Linked DNA regions of Homo sapiens. The protein of the gene in region 4 purifies or fractionates together with the protein of the main gene of each other region. This does not show direct contact. Each region holds a gene or a part of one and is shown on either strand. Other genes may lie near its edges.

Evidence for each region. Proteins that work in one complex are often made in the same cells at the same time.
Region 1: the proteins of GPR84 (region 4) and DYM purify together in Homo sapiens (affinity purification with mass spectrometry; one large-scale study listed by BioGRID and IntAct). This does not show direct contact.
Region 2: the proteins of GPR84 (region 4) and THADA purify together in Homo sapiens (affinity purification with mass spectrometry; one large-scale study listed by BioGRID and IntAct). This does not show direct contact.
Region 3: the proteins of GPR84 (region 4) and EI24 purify together in Homo sapiens (affinity purification with mass spectrometry; one large-scale study listed by BioGRID and IntAct). This does not show direct contact.

What each region holds. Positions count from the first base shown.
Region 1 is NC_000018.10:49,036,997-49,042,016, forward strand, and holds part of DYM (dymeclin), read right to left. Parts: 3' UTR 1-5,020. UniProt on the Homo sapiens protein: Necessary for correct organization of Golgi apparatus. Involved in bone development.
Region 2 is NC_000002.12:43,574,890-43,579,909, forward strand, and holds part of THADA (tRNA (32-2'-O)-methyltransferase regulator THADA), read right to left. Parts: intron 3,719-5,020; coding exon 3,624-3,718; intron 2,354-3,623; coding exon 2,133-2,353; intron 139-2,132; coding exon 1-138. UniProt on the Homo sapiens protein: Together with methyltransferase FTSJ1, methylates the 2'-O-ribose of nucleotides at position 32 of the anticodon loop of substrate tRNAs.
Region 3 is NC_000011.10:125,578,606-125,582,979, reverse strand, and holds part of EI24 (etoposide-induced protein 2.4 homolog), read right to left. Parts: intron 4,032-4,374; coding exon 3,912-4,031; intron 2,888-3,911; coding exon 2,776-2,887; intron 1,770-2,775; coding exon 1,658-1,769; intron 635-1,657; coding exon 560-634; intron 1-559. UniProt on the Homo sapiens protein: Acts as a negative growth regulator via p53-mediated apoptosis pathway. Regulates formation of degradative autolysosomes during autophagy.
Region 4 is NC_000012.12:54,360,425-54,365,780, reverse strand, and holds GPR84 (G-protein coupled receptor 84), read left to right. Parts: upstream 1-1,294; 5' UTR 1,295-1,388; intron 1,389-1,921; 5' UTR 1,922-1,929; coding exon 1,930-3,120; 3' UTR 3,121-3,336; downstream 3,337-5,356. UniProt on the Homo sapiens protein: G protein-coupled receptor that responds endogenously to dietary fatty acids or nutrient, specifically medium-chain free fatty acid (FFA) with carbon chain lengths of C9 to C14.

The sequences.
Region 1 (5,020 bases), on a different chromosome or scaffold from region 4:
GTTCAAGCAATTCTCTTGCCTCAGCCTCCTGCGTAGCTGGGACTACAGATGCCCACCACCACGCCCAGCTAATTTTTGTATTTTTAGTAGAGACGGGGTTTCATCATGTTGGCCAGGCTGGTCTTGAACTCCTGACCTCAGGTGACTCCCAAAGTGCTGGGATTACACATGTGAGCCAACATGCCCAGCCAATGAGTCCTCTTAATCCTTTTAAATAACCAACTTTTGACTTTGATTCCCTTTATTGTATATTTGTGTTCTATATCAGTAATTTGGCTTATTTTTGGGTTTCATGTGCTGTTTTTAAAATTTTTGAGGTAATTGCTTAATTGATTTTTAACCTTTCTTCTTTTCTAACATAAACATTTAAATATATATGTGTGTGTATATATATATATGAACAATAGACACTAGGGACTCCAAAACGAGGGAGGAAGGGAAGGAGAGAGGGAAGCAAGTGCTGAAAAACTTTCTATTGGGTACTATGTTCACTATCTGGGTGACAGGATCATTAGGAGCCCAAACCTCAGCATCATCAATATATTCTTGTAACAAACCTGAACAGGTACTCTTTAAATTTAAAATAAAATTAAAAGGTCTTCTAAGCATAGTTTTATTTGCATCCCACAAGTTTTTTCTCTGTTTTGATATGTAGTATTTTCATGATCAGTTCAAAATATTTCAAATTTCCATTAAGATTCTGACAGATGGGTTACCTGGAAATCTATTTCCAAAAATATGAGGATTATAAAATTATCTTTTTGTAAATAATTAGTCTTGATTCTATTATGGTCAGAGAACATATTTCATTTGAAGTATTTTCAGGTTTGTTGAGACTTTTTTTCTGAGACAGGGTCTTGCTCTGTCACCCAAGCTGGAGTGCAGTAGTGCAATTATAGCTCACTGCAGCCTCGACCTCCTGGGCACAAGTGATTCTCCTGCCTCAGCTTCCCAAGTAGCTGGGGCTATAGGCACATGCCACCATGCCCAGTTAATTTTTTTATTTTTTGTAAAGGTGGGGCCTCATTATGTTGCCCAAGCTGGTCTCAAACTCCTGGGCTCAAGTGATCTTCCTGACTTGGCCTCTCAAAGTGCTAGTATTACAGATGTGAGCCACTGTGCCTAGCCTGTTGAAACCTTTATAGCCCAGTATTTTGGAGTGTGTGCCATTTGTGTTTGAAAAGTATGTTATTGAGTTTGGTGTCCTACATACATCCGTTTGGTTTGCTCATTTCATTGCTTAAATCTTTTATAACTTGATTTTTGTATGCTAGTTTTTCTACCAATTAACAAAATAGGCATGTTAAAATATCACTCTGGTTGCATATTTGTCTAAATTTCCTATCAAATTTTCTTTTACATATTTTGAGTTTATATTTTAAGTGCATATAAATTTAGATTATCTTTCTAGTAATTGAATTGACCCTTTTATTTCTTAAAAAAATTATTGCCTTAAAGTTTACTTAAATATATCTACACCAGTTTCCTCATGGTTACTGTTTGCTGGGTATGTATTTCTCCATCTTTTTCTTCCAAAATTTCTAAATTCATGTTCTAAAAATGTCTCTTGTAAATAGCATATGGTTTAAAACAAGGCTGACAATATTTGTCAACATTTGAGCATTAGTCCATTTACATTTAGTGTAATAATGGATTTATCACAAATATCTTGCTTTCTATTTGTTCCACCTGTTCTGCTTTTTCTTCTTTCTTAGACTCTTTTGCAATTCTTAAATCTTCCACTGAATTGATTATTCGAATTCTCTCTTATTATGTGGAAAGCTATACACTTTTATTGATATCTCAAATATTATCATGCATACATGAGTTATCAAAGACTAATATTAAATGAATTTTTACTCTCTTCTTGGATGATGCCAAGTGTCTTAGAACACTTAAAATTCCCACATAAATCCTTTCATTTTCATACATTTTATTTCTCTATATATTTAAAACTCCATAAGACATAATTATTGTTTTATGTAGTCAATATTTATGTGTCATTTTCATTGCTCTTCAATCTTTCCTAGGGCTCTGTCCTTACGTTTGGGATTATTTTCCTTCTGCCTGTAAAACACCTTTTAAATTTTCCTTTAGGGTAGGCGTGCTGATTAATTCTTCTAGCTGTTTCTCTAAAAATGTCTTCATATCCTCTTCATTTTTGCAGGATATTTTCCCTGATTAGAAATTTTTAGGTTGGCAGTCATTTTCTTTCAGAACCATAAAAGGCAGTATTTCACTGTCTTCCATTGTTTCTGCTGAGAAGGAGCTGTCAGTCTAATATTATTGCTCCTTTAATGGTTATATTCCCTCTCCCACCCCAGCAGGTCTAAAATATTATTTTTCTTTGGTCTTCAACAGTTTTACTATGATGTTTCTAGGTGTGGGTTGTTTTTATTTATCCCACTTGGAGTTTGTGGGAGGGATTCTTGAATTTTTGGTGTGATATCTTTCATGAGTTTTGGAAAAGTTCTCAGCCATTTGTTTAAATATTCCTTTCTTCTACTCTTTTGAGATGCCAACTACCCTGCATGTCTGAGCAGGTCAGACATGCTCACTGTACCCTTTAAGTCTCTTACCCTCTATTCTCCATGTTCTGTTTTTTTTACTATATAATTCCTGCTCCCACCCCTCACCCTCAATTTTTCATCTTACTCATTCTCTTTTCAGTTATTTCTAATCTGCTCTTAAACCTGTTCACTGTTCTTCTCATTACAGTACTTTAGTTATAGAATTTCCAATGCGCCTTTTACAGTTTCTAACTCTCTGTTGAAATTCTTGACCATGCGTCTCATTTTTTTGAACACAGTAACCATAGCTGTTTTAAATTCTGCGACAACTTTATCTGGAGTCTGTTTGGATATTTCTATTGTCTGTGTTTTCCTCTAATGGTTTTAATTCAAGTAATTAATGTTGTCTGGTCTTCTCCCATACCTGGGTATTTCTGATTGCAACACTGCAGAAATAATTTGAGGCCTTGGGTTATGTTTACTTCCTCCACAGAATTTGCCATTTGCTTCAATTGGGCACCTGAAGGCATCAGTAATCTGGTTTCACCTCGGACCACATTCAGGTACTGAGGTGGTTTAGAAGTTGAACTGCACTACCCATGAGGGATAGTCCAATGACAGTAATGGAGGACCAACCCTCAAGCTAAGGACAACTTGGAAATCTGGTAAAAATATTTTTAAAATTTGCTTGAAGGACCCCAGAGTCAACAAGATAGTTAAGTATTACTTGTCCAGTTCTATGGGGCTGCTTTTCCTCTGGGGGATTTTGCTAATGCCAGAGGCTGTGTCTGAGTAGCTGACATTTAGACAGCCTTGTGAAGTTAGATTAGGGGTTGAGTATGACCTGGCCAAGGGTCTTGGGGCTACTGGTGAGTCTCCCTTGCTTTGAGTGGGAACTCTGAATAGCTATACGCTAATGAGATTAAATTTTATGCTTTAATTCATACAAAATAAATATGCATTATTTGCTGTGGATTGTGTGTTATAATCTACTTCTCAGTTCTTCATATGCATAGCTAGCTTAGCTCTTCATCACTGAATAGAAACTGACCTCTTTGACTCCAGGAGGTGATGTAGGACACTGGAATTGTTCTGAATTTGGAGTCAGAAGGCCTAATAATCAGTCCCTAAAATCAAGTGGCAACTACTGATATTGCAGGATAGTGCCTAGGAAAGAATTAAGAGACCCAAAGGGTTGACCTTGCAGAGACTCCAGCCTATGAAGTATCAGCAAGTGCCAAAAATTTATGGCTCTGCAAAAAAGCACAGGGTGACTCAATTATGCAGAGAGCTCTACCACCCAATGCAAAACCCTGGCTCCCGGAATCTAAAGGACGAAATGTTGCTTAAAGTATGATATATTAACAATTCCAGTGCTTAAAAGTTTCCCTCACTAAATATTTCTCTTGGATGTACCTTAGCAAGCTCTTAGGAAGTTGCTGAGTGTTCTGATGCTGGTCCTGTGTCCTTTCCACTTTCTATCGTCTACTTCCCAGCTCCTGTGCTTTCCTTCCAGAGAGAACTGTGTGTGCAGTGTACTTTCTATGCTTCACCTTCAGGGACCTTCTCTTCTTTCCTTTCTCTGTCTTTGTCCTTGAGCTGTGTTGTCTGCACTGCTGAATGGTGGCAGTCCTGCTGCAAGGTTGTTGTTCATAGATTGTATGACACCAGCCTCAACGGGTGACTGTGGGAACTAGAGTTAGAAATCTGAAGCTCTTCTGCAAAGTGCCTTGAACTCTTGATAGGGAAGATGCTATTGAAAGGGACAAATTCTTTTAAAAGTAAATATTGTGGCAGAAGTCTTTGTTGATAAAATGACACAATGCAGTAACAGCTTCAGATCTGGGGTAAAATCAGATGCCAATTTCCATCTGAACACACGATGATCCTGTGTTGCATCATTACACATTTTTACTTCGTGTAAAAATTTCTAAGCAAACTAATACTCAAAATTAATGCAAGTATAATGAAAGTTTATCATTCAGATTTATTGCCATATAATAAATCTTTCACAAAAATCAGGAAGAAGCCTCTGGTGACTTTGCAGAGCTGAGGCAGTGATGCACGTGGTGGGGCCTCCCTCCTGAGCGGGAACCAGGACTGGGAGCATCACTTGCAGGCCTCCATGGAGGCTGCTGCCCCAGCTGAGCTGTTAGCTAGTGAGTGCTTCTACTGTGTGATGAATGAGAAAAGGGAAAGAGGGGAGGGCAATCAGGGTTCTGGGGGCACCTCAGTGAGCCCAGAGGCCTGGAGGAGAGGCTGTATGATTCCCCAGTCAGGCCTTCCTTGGGAGTGTGCCCTCTGTCAAGATGACTGGGTTTTTGAAGGGCCTCATTTCCTCACACAACAAGCACTGACAGTCCTGCAGCCCAGGGACTGTCCTGTGGCACTGCCCAGCCCTCAGACTCAGAGGACAGTTCTGTGGTCCTGCCAGAAGCTCAGCTGTTCCACATGACCCTTAAACATTTAAACAATTTTTTGGTTTAAAGGAAAAGGAAGCCAATCAAAAT
Region 2 (5,020 bases), on a different chromosome or scaffold from region 4:
AGTCTCCCAACTATACTTGAATTCCCATTCAGGCTGTCCGTTAGGCTCGGGGAACTTGATTCAAGGACTTGTATGGCTGAATTAGTCCAGGATGCTAAGATTCTAGACAGAAACATTTCCAGCGTTGGCTCTTTAATCCTGAAGAAAAATGAGCCATGAGCCATTATTGTAAACTGATTAGTAAAAGAAATTTCATTTTATAACAATTTAGACTTTAAAAATATTAAATACACAGAATGACCACAAATTTCAATTATTAAATTTACAAGAACAAAAAACTACAAGTAAAGCCAAAACAGATCTCAAATTTGTATATGATTCTTTTTACCTTGTAAAAAATAATCCAGAAAGCAGTTCAAGATCAGCCTAGGCAATATAGTGAAACCCCATCTCTATAAAAAATTTAAAAATTTAGCTGGGTGTGGTGACACACACCTACAGTCCCAGCTACTTGGGAAGCTGAGGTGGGAGGATTGCTTGAGCTCAGGAGTGAGACTGCAATGAGCTGTGCTCATGCCACTACACTCCAGCCTGGGTGACAAAGCGAGACTTTGTCTCAAAAATAATAATAGTCCAGGAAGGGACATAGGGAAATTTGGGGGATGATGGAAATATTCACTACCTTGACTGTGATGATTACACAAGTTATTTATTTATTTATTTATTTGAGACAGGGTCTTGCTGTCACCCAGGCTGGAGTGCAGTGGTGCGATCTCGGCTCACTGCAACCCCTGCCTCCCAGGTTCAAGCGATTCTCCTGCCTCAGCCGCCTCAGTAGCTGGGATTACAGGCGCATGCCCCCATGCCTAGATAATTTTTTGTATTTTTAGTAGAGACAGGGTTTCACCATGTTGACCAGGCTGGTCTTGAACTCCTGACCTCAAGTGATCCACCTGCCTGAGATCTGCAAGCCTGGGATTACAGGCTTGAGCCACCATGCCCGGCCTACACATGTAATTTAAAAGATAAGGAAAGCCAAGTGTTGGAGATGGTTGGGGGAATGGGGCTTCTCTGTGATAAAAATATTCTAAAGTTGTTTGAATTAACTTTTAAGATGTTAAAACTTCATTTCAGAAATGTTGATAAGGATCACTTTAGATTACCTATGTTAAAGTGCTTCATAAATTCTAAAGCACTACACATGTAGAAACTTTTATAGTTTTAAAAAATGATGCTAAAAACAAATTTCAGGAAAAAAATTTTTAAAGAAAAAATATAGCAAAGAGAATATTAAAAATTAATTTTAGAAATGCTGGTGGTTGTACAACTCTGTGAATAAACTAATAAACTGAATTGTACACTTCAAATTTATGAATTGCATAATATAGCTCAAATATGTAAAAAATTATTTTAGTTTTCCTCCTTTATTCATATGTTCAGTATTATCAAGCTGTATATATGTTTCGACATTTCATATACATGATCACTTTCAGCCATTATGGCAAAAACACCACAAAAATACAAAATACAGCCCCATGAAGTCAGAAGACCTTCTAAGATTGCTGTTTCAGGTTCTTATTAGCAATATGGTCTCAGGTAAGCATTTACTTTTCTAAGCCTCCCTTTGCCCATTCAACAAATTAGATTTCTTATCCTATATAGTAGCCATTTGAGGATCACATTAGATTACCTATGTTGAAGTTCTTTATAAATTCTAAAACACTATACATATAAAAATTTTTATAGTTTTTAAAAACGATAACATTGAAAATGTTAAAAATTAATTTTAGAAATGTTCTTTACAGGCTAACCTGCAGCAATAATTTTATTTATTTATTTTTTTAAGACAGGATCTCACTCTGTCGCCCAGGCTTGAGTGCAGTGGCACAATCATATCTCACTGCATCCTCGGCCTCCTGGGCTCAAGCAATGTTCTCACCTCAGCCTCCCACGTAGCTGAGACTACAGGCGCATGCCACCACACCCAGCTAAGTTTTAAAAGTTTTGTACAGACACAGTCTCACTATGTCACCAAGGCTGGTTTTGAACTCCTGGCCTCAAGTGATCCTCTTGCCTCAGCCTACTGGGAGGGTAGCTGGGATTAGAGGCACAAGCCACTCCAGCTTTTGGACTGCATCTTCTAAATGTCTTACAAGTGAAACAAAATATGAGACGATAGCATCAAAACTCACTGTGAACTCAAGGTGAACAAAACATGTGCAGTATCCAAGAGCAGGGCCTCCCCACTCCGACCCATGCTTCCGTTCTGCCAGTCCAACATGGCAAGTGTCCCCTGACAGAGGAATAAGACAGCTGACTGAGAGATGTCACCACAACAGAGGCTCCTGCAGCTGCTCATAAACCACTCGGGGACACTGGTGCAGTCCACTGAACGAAGCAGCACACTGCTAATCTGGAAAAATATAGCAGAGCTAACACACATAAAGCTTTTAAAACTTTTCAGAGATATTTCAAAATACAAACCCAAACATCTCTTTCCCCTGAAAAATCCTAGGAAAAATGACTAAATCCAAAGATAAAATACCCACAAATGTCATGATTATTGTATTAGTATTAAAGGAAAAAAATTACATCAAGTACGAGAATGATTTTGCTGGTTGGAATGTACTGGCAGAGCACAACACATCGCCACCTGCAGGTGGATAAGCTTAACAACTGCTTTTTTTTTTTGGTATGTATTTTTTTTTTAAACAAATGCTTTTAGAGGTGATTTGAGAAATAAACATCTTCGACTTATCCAAAGATAATTACTTTGTGTGATCTCATAATATATTTTTCTAAGGTCAGGTAAAAAGATAAAATAAGTTTCCATACAATATAGCAAGCAAAAAAAGAAATCTACTAGTAAAAAATACAAGGATTGTGGCCTAAATTATCAAATTATACTTTCTGTAAGAAGCAAATTTACTGAACAATTGACTCTATCTAGCATGCTTCCTGTCTAAAGCACATGATTTGGGTTATTCTCAATAAAGAATACATTTATCAGAAAAGTTATTACTGTGTATATATCTATACATTGATATGCATAATTTTAACATTAAAAATATCTTTTAAGATACTAATGAGAGATGACACTGAACAAACAGCACTAAAAAGAAACTAAAAGAATGTACATCAAAAATGTTTATAGTGATTATCTTTGTGAGATGGACTTACAGGTGACTGTTATTGTCTTTTTGTTATTGTTGCTTTATCTGAATTTTTGGAATTGTCTCTTATTATAACAGAAAAAGGTCATCAGAAGGAACCAGACAATGCAAAAAAAAATTATTTTAATTCACTTCTTTAAAAATATTTTTAATTTTTTTTTTTTTTAAGAGACAAGGTCTCACTCTGTTGCCCAGACTGGTGCAATCTTATCTCACTGCAGCCTTAAACTCCTAGGCTCAAGCGATCCTCCTACCTCAACCTCTCAAAGAGCTGGGACTACAGCTGTGCACCACCATACCCAGCAAATTTTCTTTTTTTTTTTTTGTAGAGACAAGGTCTAGCTAAACTCCCCAGGCTAATCTCAAACTCCTGGCCTCAAGTGACCCTCCTGCCCTGGCCTCCCAAAGTGTTGGGATTATAAGTGTGAGCCACTGCACCAAGCCAAAATTATTTTTTAAACATACCCTAACTCTCAATAAAGTACAATTCTAAAAAGGAGATGCACTTACCAAATGAGGAATCTTTTCAGACGGGTGAAACATAGTCTTAATAAAAAGAATAATAGCTAATCCAGATGTGCTCTGTACAGTCTGTAACAGATCATCTATTTGGCAAAAAAGGAGAGAAGCTTGTGTTAAATAATGAATATTCTGGTAGAGTGGAAAGAGCAGATGCTGAGCAGCCAGATAGGCCTGGGTACAATTTCTAGTCTGACCACTTCCTGGGTGAATAGGTCTTACCTAAGTTATTTAACATCCCACAGACTCTCTTTTCTCTTGGGTAAAATGGGATAACTCTTAACTGAGGCAGTGTCAGGTTTAGATGAATAATGAACATAAACGCTTTTTAGAAGGAGTCTCACTCTGTTGACAGGCTGGAGTGTAGTAGCGTGACCTCAGCTCACTGCAACCTCTACTTCCTGGGTTCAGGCGATTCTCCTGCCTCAGCCTCCCAAGTAGCTGGGACTACAGGCGCGTGCCACCACACCCAGCTAATTTTTGTATCTTTAGTAGAGATGGGGTTTCACCACGTTGGCCATGATGGTCTCGATCTCTTGACCTTGTGATCCGCCTGCCTCGGCCTCCCAAAGTGTTGGGATTACAGGCATGAGCCACTGTGCCCGGCTGAATATAAAGGCTTTTAAGCCCAGCATATAGATACTCAATAAACGTGATTCCTTCCTCTCTCCTCTAACATACACTTTCTTCCTCGCCAACTATTGCTTCCCAAAACACCTAACAGCAACACCACCTGTCCCCTCCCCTCCACCAATGCCTCTGTATCCCAATCACCATATACACAGACTTTTTCAAAAAGAGATTTCAGGGCTTGTATAAAGAATGTAGGTAAGTGCTAATTACAAACTTTGCTAGCACTGACACTGTACCCATAGCAACCAAACAGTTTTGACTTGGTATCTTCTTTTTGTTTTATCTCTATTAGCCTCTAATACCATGGTGAGTTGTTCAACCTGGGGAAAGAAGTAACACTTCTTTATGACATCATAAACTACGTACTAAATATCCACTCTGCCCTTCATCACTGATAAGAAAACTGTGACTTTGATTGGGGAAGCCACATGCCCAGCCAAAAGCAGGATACTTGCTTCTTCAATCTTCTTTGCAACTAAAGGTAGGCATATAAGAGGGTTCAGGCCAGTTGGATTTAAGCCAGTCACTTGAGTATCCTGATCAAAAGTAAAGACGCAACTGGCCTTCCTTCTTCCTGCCTTGAATAAAGACACATCTGGAGCTACAGCAGTCATATGGCAACCACGAGGCAACAAACGTGGGTGAAAACCAACCTGCTGAAGATGGCACAGCAGAAAAGCAGAAAATGTGTGGGTCGTACACTGCCTATACCAGTTCTGGATGACCTGCCTCTGAACTTGTTATGTGGGAAAGGA
Region 3 (4,374 bases), on a different chromosome or scaffold from region 4:
TTCGGGGTACAGACTTCAAGCTATGTCTGAAGGTATCATATGCTATCTGTGGTTGCAGGAAGAAGAGTTTCAAAAGAAAGTCAAATATTCCTCTTAAGATAAACAGTGAGCTGTGCTGTATAGCAAGAGCATACAAAAACCCAAAGCAGACCTAAGTCTCTAATACAAGTATCCACACTGACTTAACCAAAATTGATCAAAGATGAATTGAGCTTTTCTTTGAAGTAATAAAACTTTTAGAATGCTATTATTATTGCTAAAAACTCATTTTAAAGTATATTTTACTACTGTTATCAATAAACTCATGTGGCCAGGTCATACAGCCCTCTACTTGAATATGTATAATGGGATCGGTTTTGGAAATATATATATACTCATGTGCATATATGCATGGAGAAAAGTTTGGGTTATATCCCAGAAGTGTTTCTCTCTCATTAAACCTTATATTAAGATTTTCCTACAGTAAGAATTTTTTTTTTTAAAAAGCCTCACTGACATAACTGGTGTTACAGCCCCAACCCTTTACACAGCAAAAATTTCATCACTGGCTAATACTTACTATGCTTTGCCAGGGGTCTTTGCTTCATTGGCGCTGATAATGAATAAAGGAAAGAGGATAGAGAAAAGGCAGCCACTGTTTAAAAAAAAAAAAAAGAAATAATTAGTCACCTTCATAACAGACATGACTTTGAAGAAGATATTAGAAGCTCCAAGTTCTTTTGCTTCCAGTGTAAACATTATGGCTTGATGAAACCTCAATATTTCAAACATTTTTTTTTTTGAGATGGAGTCGCGTTCTTGTCGCCCAGGCTGGAGTACAGTGGCAAGATCTCAACTCACCGCAACCTCCGCCTCCTGTGTTCAAGCGATTCTCCTGCCTCAGCCTCCCAAGTAGCTGGGATTACAGGTGTGTGCCACCACGCCTGGCTAATTTTTGTATTTTCAGTAGAGATGGGATTTCACCATGTTGGCCAGGCTGGTCTCGAACTCCTGACCTCAGGTAATCTGCCCACCTCAGCCTCCCAAAGTGCTGGAATTACAGGCGTGAGCCGTGGCACCCAGCCCATCAAACACATCTTTCAAAAAGAACAGAAGATTTTTCTAAGCACTGGGCATGTTTAACATTGCTGCAGGGCTGGGCATGGTAGCTCATGTCTATAATCTGAGCACTTTGGGAGGCCAAGGTGGGTGGATCACTCGATGTCAGGAGTTCAAGACCAGCCTGGCCAACATAGTGAAACCCCATCTCTACTAAAAACACAAAAATTAGCTAGGCGTGATGGTGGGCGCCTGTAATCCCAGCTACTTGGGAGGCTGAGGCAGGAGAATCAGTTAAACCCAGGAGGCGGAGGTTGCAGTGAGCTGAGATTACACCACTGCACTCTAGCCTGGGCGACAGAGTGAGACTCTGTCTCAAAAAAAAAAAAAAAAAAAAAAAAAAAGAATAATTGCTTCAGGAGGCAACATAGAAAAAGAATATGGGATATAGGGACATTCAGACTAGATCTTCATGCTAACAAATGTAGAAATACCCTGCAGGTCTCCTGATGGACAAATGATGATGTAGAATGCGAAACAGAACGAAGCAAACAAAAGGCACTGACTTCATGAATTTTTATTTTTACTAGTCTCCTTCAAATCCCTGTAGCCAAATTACCTGATAATATATGAGGACTGCATTGCTGTGAGAAAAGCCAAGGGCAAACCAAACCCAAAGTAGTAAGGCCAATTCCTTTCTATGTTAGACAACCGCTGGTGCATTTCAATTCCTAAAACAAGAAAGCCAATACAATTAGATATTATATTTCCTTTTAGTCAAGTGACTAAGTAACTATGGTAGACAAACCATGAGTTTTAGGTACAGATTTTATTATTATTATTATTATTATTATTATTATTATTTGAGATGGAGTCTTGCTTTGATGCCCAGGCGGGAGTGCGGTGGTGCAATCTCAGCTCACTGCAACCTCCACCTCCTGGTTTCAAGCGATTCTCCCACCTCAGCCTCCCAAGTAGCTGGGATTACAGGCGCCTGCCACCTCGCCCAGCTAATTTTTGTATTTTTAGTAGAGACAGGGTTTCACCATATTGGCCAAGCTGGTCTTGAACTCCTGACCTCAGGCGATCCACCCACCTTGGCCTCCCAAAGTGTTGGGATTACAGGTGTGAGCCACCACACCCAGCCTAGGTACAGATTTAGAACAGAGCTACAGCATATAAATTAGAAGTGTACAAATCTGATATAAAGCATGCAAAGTTTCTTAGAATTCTATAATCGTAATTTCAAAGCTGACAGGCTAAGTGAATTAAGAATTTCAGCACCAGCATCCTTTGTCAGGATTAGTCTGGAACTAAGCAAGATAGCAAATCAAAAGGATGCCATCCTGTAAGTATCAGTTAACCTCTTTCAACCACGCACACCCTGGTAAATATCTGAAGGTCTTTCTAAAACACCCCCAAAAGGATCCAGATGCTGACATCAATTTGACTTCTCTAATTTAGAGCAACTCATGCTCATTTATGCCATCTTACAACCCAGTCAGAGATATACCATGTTAAGCACCAAAAAGATAATGCCATACTACCACATCCCCCAGCCTCAAAGTTGAGAGTTAAACCCACTAAGCCGAAGGTAAGCTCCCTCTTGCCAATGAGGCTGCTTCCCTCAAAGGATTGTTTGCCAAAAGCCTGACTATGAGTAGTTTAAGAAGTCTGCTTAGCAGTAGCATTTCCAAACTGGGCCTCCATTTTCTGGATTTCTTTAGATGGACTTACCTTTATTGAACCAACGATATTCAAAGCAGTACAGTGAGTAGAGAAGGGACATATGCAGGAGACTAACCAGCTGACCGACAAGATGGATGGGAAAGAGACTCACAAACATTCCCTGAAGAACAAATATGGAAAATCTTAATCCCAAAGCCTCGGAAACCTAGCACCATTCACCTGTCACTCTCCAATCACTGTCTGAGATAGCTTCCTAGCTGCTTCTCAAGTTTCTAAAAGGCCGAGTGCAGGGTGGGCACAGTGACTCATTCCTGTAATCCCAACAGTTTGGGAGGATGAGGCGGGAGGATCTCTTGAGGCCAAGAGTTAAAGACCAGACTGGGCAACATACTGAGACCCTGTCTCTACAACAAGATTTTTAAAATGAGCATGATGGCATGTGCCTGTAGTCCCAGCTACTCAGGAGGCTAAGGCAGGAGGATTGCTTGAGCCCAGAGTTTGAGGCTGCAGTGAGGTATGATTGTGCCACTGTACTCCAGCCTAGGTGGCAAAATAAGACCCTGTCTTTTATTTATTTATTTATTTTTGAGACAGTTTTGCTCTTGTCGCCCAGGCTGGAGTGCAATGGCGCGATCTCGGCTCACTACAATCTCTGCCTCCTGGGTTCAAGCGATTCTCCTGCCTCAGCTTCCCGAGTAGCTGGGATTACAAGCATGTTGCCACCACGCGCAGCTAATTTTTGTATTTTTAGTAGAGATGGGGTTTCACCATGTTGGCCAGGCTGGTCTCAAATGCCTGACCTTAGGTGATCCGCCCACCTCGGCCTCCCAAAGTGCTGGGATCACAGGCATGAACTACTGCGCCCAGCCGACCCGTCTGTCTCTTTAAAAAAAAAAAAAAATTAGGCATAACTATAAAAAGAAAAAAAGTTTCCACCTGGCAGGACTGGAGAATAACCAGAGTAGCAGAAAAAAGCAGGTAAATTCATGTTTCTTATAATTTTATAATGTAATTTTAAAATTCTCATTTCCGTGGGGAAAAAAAGATTTAAAAATCATTACCTCCCACCAGCATATATATAATACTCTGTATAAATATAATACTCTGTCTTTGTGAAGTTCTCTCTAGTGAAACAGTTTTTCTTTTTAATAAAGCTGCCCATATGCCCAGAAGGTCAGTCTCACCTGAATGAGGAAAAGAGCCTGCAGCAAAAGGTTGAAGAGCATGTCAGCAATTATTTTGCTGACACTAGGGAATGGGTGAGGCTTCCTCCCTGATACCTCAAATGCCAGGTCAGCTATATCCTGTAACAGAGAAAGTGTACCAAAACATGAATTAAATGGCCTTGATATACATCCCCAAAGCTAAGGCCACTAGTCCGCCACTAGAGCTGCCAGTTAAGAAAAGGCTTATTTAAAAATAAGCTGGGCACGATGGCATGTGCCTATAGTCCCAGCTACTCAGGAGGCTAAGGTAGGAGGATTGCTGCCTTATGCCGTGGCTCACGCCTATAATCCCAGCACTTTGGGAGGCCGAGGCAGGCAGATCAGCAGGTCAGGAGTTTGAGACCAGCCTGGCCAACATGGTGAAACCCTGTCACTAATAAAAATACAAAAAAAATTAGCCAGGCATGGTGGCACGTGCCTG
Region 4 (5,356 bases):
CCAGGCCTATATAGTATTTTAAAGCAAGCCTCAGCAAACTTTTTCTCAAAGGGCCTGATTATAAATATTTTAAACTGTGTTAATCAAGAGATAAAACTGAGGATATTACATAGGCACTTATATAACAATTTAAAATATAACCATTTTTATTTTACTTACTTATTTATTTATTATTTTATTTTTTGAGACGGAGTCTTGCTCTGTCATCCAGGCTGGAGTGCAGTGGTGCAATGTGATCTTGGCTAACTGCAAGCAACCTCCGCCTCCCGGGTTCAAGCGATTCTCTTGCCTCAGCCTCCCTAGTAGCTGGGATTACAGGCGCACCCATCACGCCTGGCTAATTTTTGTATTTTTAGTAGAGACGGGGTTTTACCATGTTGGCCAGGCTGGTCTCGAACTCCTGACCTCAAGTGATCTGCCCTCCTTGGCCTCCCAAAATGTTGGGATAATGGGCGTGAGCCACTGCACCTGGCCTAAAATATAACCATTTTTAAATGGAAAAAAAACATGATTGGGTCACAGGCTATACAAAAACAGCAGACTAGATTTGGCCCATAGGGTGAAGTTTACTCACCCTTGCTCTGGAGAATCGATTAAGCATTTGCATATTTATGTATCTGTCTCCCCTAGTAGACTATGCACAAGGCCATATATCAGACGTTCTTGTATCCCCAGTGTCTAGATCAGAGTCTGGTGTATAGTAGGCACTCAGTACTAAGTTGTTGGGTAAATGGATAAATGAATGATTGAACAGGACCCTGATCCCTTGAGGAGAATGAAACCAGAATTCTGGATGCCTCATTCCCCACTTTTCTTCATCTGACTTGGTTTCTCAAATGTGCTAGGGTGTCACATGGGTCCCTCTGACTTGAACCATGTCTAAGCCGTGGAGACAAGAAAGGTAGTGCTCCTCTGAAACAAACCCAAGGCTTCTGGGGGTACCTAAAGTTGCTCCTGGAACTTGGTCTTATCTTTTGGCCCTTTGAGGAGTGGCCCAAATGTTCTGATGCTCTGACTCCGTGCCCTAGCAATTCTTGGCAATGATCTTACAGATGAGTTCTGCCATGCAAAGAGGGGAAGAAAACAGAGTTTGGGTTTCAGGAAGGAGAAAGGAAGAGTGAAACCACTCTGAGGTAAGTAGCGGGGGACTTTCAACAGAGAAGCCTAGATTTCACTAGCCGAAGCAAAATGAGTAGGACCGGAGGTGGTGAAGGAAGTGGCTGGGATTGGGTAATGGGGGAGTTTCTTATTCTTTCAGTGGACTATAATAGGATACATAAGAGCAGGATGTCTCCTGCTTGAAGCCTAACTGTCCACCAGAAAGGACTGCTCTTTGGGTGAGTTGAACTTCTTCCATTATAGAAAGAATTGAAGGCTGAGAAACTCAGGTAAGCACTTTTGTTGTGGGTATACTTTTACCTTCTTGGTCTCCTCATCTCCCAGGTGGTAACAAACAGAAATGACTAAAGCCTATATGTGTGTGTAGTGGAAAGGAGCAGAGGGAACTGAATACAGAGAGGATCCTGAATACACGATGCTGAATAGAGAGAGGGGACTCCTGGGGGTCTTTGGGGATGGGGAAGGAATTAAAAAAGTTGGAGGGCACTGGGTTTACTGAGAGCAGCGGGATGGATATAGAAGAGGACTGAGGTTTGGAGCAGAATAAGACTAAGATATTTAGGCAAGAGATATTTAGATAAAAACTTGGGGAAATATTTGAGAATGGGAAAGGACTAAGAGAACCTAAGGAGAGAGTTAGGGATCTTGAGATGAAGAGGCCTGGGAATGGTTCAGGAGGATACTGAATTAAGGTGAGGTCCAGGAACAGTTTAGATGTCCAGGGTCCCAGAACTGTTCAAGAGATCTAAGTTGAATGCTAGGTTCTGATTCCCTCTTCCTCTTCCACCCTCTGCCTCTTTAGCCTCTATCATGTGGAACAGCTCTGACGCCAACTTCTCCTGCTACCATGAGTCTGTGCTGGGCTATCGTTATGTTGCAGTTAGCTGGGGGGTGGTGGTGGCTGTGACAGGCACCGTGGGCAATGTGCTCACCCTACTGGCCTTGGCCATCCAGCCCAAGCTCCGTACCCGATTCAACCTGCTCATAGCCAACCTCACACTGGCTGATCTCCTCTACTGCACGCTCCTTCAGCCCTTCTCTGTGGACACCTACCTCCACCTGCACTGGCGCACCGGTGCCACCTTCTGCAGGGTATTTGGGCTCCTCCTTTTTGCCTCCAATTCTGTCTCCATCCTGACCCTCTGCCTCATCGCACTGGGACGCTACCTCCTCATTGCCCACCCTAAGCTTTTTCCCCAAGTTTTCAGTGCCAAGGGGATAGTGCTGGCACTGGTGAGCACCTGGGTTGTGGGCGTGGCCAGCTTTGCTCCCCTCTGGCCTATTTATATCCTGGTACCTGTAGTCTGCACCTGCAGCTTTGACCGCATCCGAGGCCGGCCTTACACCACCATCCTCATGGGCATCTACTTTGTGCTTGGGCTCAGCAGTGTTGGCATCTTCTATTGCCTCATCCACCGCCAGGTCAAACGAGCAGCACAGGCACTGGACCAATACAAGTTGCGACAGGCAAGCATCCACTCCAACCATGTGGCCAGGACTGATGAGGCCATGCCTGGTCGTTTCCAGGAGCTGGACAGCAGGTTAGCATCAGGAGGACCCAGTGAGGGGATTTCATCTGAGCCAGTCAGTGCTGCCACCACCCAGACCCTGGAAGGGGACTCATCAGAAGTGGGAGACCAGATCAACAGCAAGAGAGCTAAGCAGATGGCAGAGAAAAGCCCTCCAGAAGCATCTGCCAAAGCCCAGCCAATTAAAGGAGCCAGAAGAGCTCCGGATTCTTCATCGGAATTTGGGAAGGTGACTCGAATGTGTTTTGCTGTGTTCCTCTGCTTTGCCCTGAGCTACATCCCCTTCTTGCTGCTCAACATTCTGGATGCCAGAGTCCAGGCTCCCCGGGTGGTCCACATGCTTGCTGCCAACCTCACCTGGCTCAATGGTTGCATCAACCCTGTGCTCTATGCAGCCATGAACCGCCAATTCCGCCAAGCATATGGCTCCATTTTAAAAAGAGGGCCCCGGAGTTTCCATAGGCTCCATTAGAACTGTGACCCTAGTCACCAGAATTCAGGACTGTCTCCTCCAGGACCAAAGTGGCCAGGTAATAGGAGAATAGGTGAAATAACACATGTGGGCATTTTCACAACAATCTCTCCCCAGCCTCCCAAATCAAGTCTCTCCATCACTTGATCAATGTTTCAGCCCTAGACTGCCCAAGGAGTATTATTAATTATTAATAAATGAATTCTGTGCTTTTAATGCTCAGGTGTGGTCTCTGGGGAAGAAGGAAACAGGTCACGGTTAGGCTCAGGGGCCAGGCTAGGAGGAGACCATACTATTCCATCCCTCCTGCATGACGAAATCCTGTCACCATGTGCATGCTCACACATATCCCTAAAGCACCTGTGGCCACCAGGAGCTGGAACCTAATACCTAAGGATTCAGGGGTACCTAGGTCAAAGCAGGAGCAGGAAGCAGCTGGCCTGGGACATAGCCTTTAGAAGAGGGGTTTCTAGGTAATAAAACATGTGAGGTGATTTAAGAGGATTAGCCTGCCTTTTTGTTTAATTTCCCAGAAATGGCCTCTGCCCCTAACCACTGCTGCCAGGATCCGCCATCCCTACAAACAAGTTTATTCAGCTCAAAAAAGTTTTATAATCCAGCTTTGATATCTACTCCAGTGGGACCAGTCCCCCAGCCCTCACTCTGTGCGAAGGGAATGGTCATGGAGGAGGACTCCTTGGTCTGTAGAAATGGAACTGAGCTTAGTTAAGGCAAAGGCAGAAAAAGGTTCCAGCTGCCCTGGCAGGGTCCTGCCCATGGGGCTAATTCACCTGAGTCCCAGGCCCTCAGTTGCCTTGCATTTGTCATCTGGACTTATGAAAGCAAGAGAACAGGCCTGGTGGGGTGTCTCACACTTGTAATCCTAGCACTTTGGGAGGCGGAGGTGGGCAGATCACCTAAGGTCAGGAGTTCAAGACCAGCCTGGCCAACGTGGTGAAACCCCGTCTCTACTAAAATACAAAAATTATGGGCCAGGCACGGTGGCTCATGCCTGTAATCCCAGCACTGTGGGAGGCAGAGGCAGGTGGATCACCTGAGGTCAGGAGTTCGAGACCAGCCTGACCAACACAGAGAAACCCCATCTCTACTAAAAATAGAAAAATTAGCCCGGCATGGTGGCGCATGCCTGTGATCCCAGCTACTCAGAAGGCTGAGGCAGGAGAATCGCTTGAACCCGGGAGGTGGAGGGTACAGTGAGCCGAGATCACGCCATTGCACTCCAGCCTGGGCAACAAGAGTGAAACTCTGTCTCAAAATAATAATAATAAATAAATAAAATAAAATACAAAAATTAACCGGGCATGATGGCGGGTGCCTGTAATCCCAGCTACTCGGGAGGCTGAGACGGGAGAATCGCTTGAACCCAGGAGACAGTGGTTGCAGTGAACCGAGATCGCGCCACTGCACTCCGGCCTGGGTGGCTGAGCGAGACTCTGTCTCAAACAAAAAAAAAAGAAAAGAAAAAGAAAGCAGGAAAACAAAGACTCTAGTTAAAAGGGCTCAGGGGCCAGGCTAGGAAACCATACCATTCCTTCCCTCCAGAATGACCAAATCCTGTCACAATGTGCGTGCTTACACACATCCTTAAAGCACCTGTGGCCACCAGGTGACGCTGGTTCTCTGCGTTTCCTTTCTGGCTTCCCAGTTGAGGACACAAGGCAGGACTGGGAATCCAGAGACCCCTGACCAGGGAGTAGAGACCCAGGGATCTTCACCCTCCCTTTCCCCCAAAGCTTAGGAAGAAAAGTGAAGAATGAGACATTTATTATTCATGAGATATTCCTGTCTACTTGAGGTGGGGCTGGGGGAAGTAGCGGTGTGGGCACTGGGGTGGCACTGGGGATGGAATGTGAGTCATGCTGACCTTAATGCTCTGGCTGCATGTTGTCCCCTCCCTCCCCCAAGTCCATGGTTTGAGAGAACAAAGTAAAATCTGAAGATATTAAGGGCAGAAAGAACCACAGTTGGGGTGGACAGATTGATACCCTCACATGCAACACACTTCTAGGGTCCAGGAATCCTGACTCCTAATATGGAACATGCACTTTTGGTTGTCCTCCTTCCACGAAAGTCACAGGAGCCTAAACCAAATCAAGCTGGGGCTACTAAGGCAGGGGTCCAGGTAAACTGTTGGACCAATGAAGAACAACAGTTTATGGGTGTAGAGACAAAGGTTTCAGTCAAGGCTCTCTCATAGTTAGCTCTCGGAACTTGA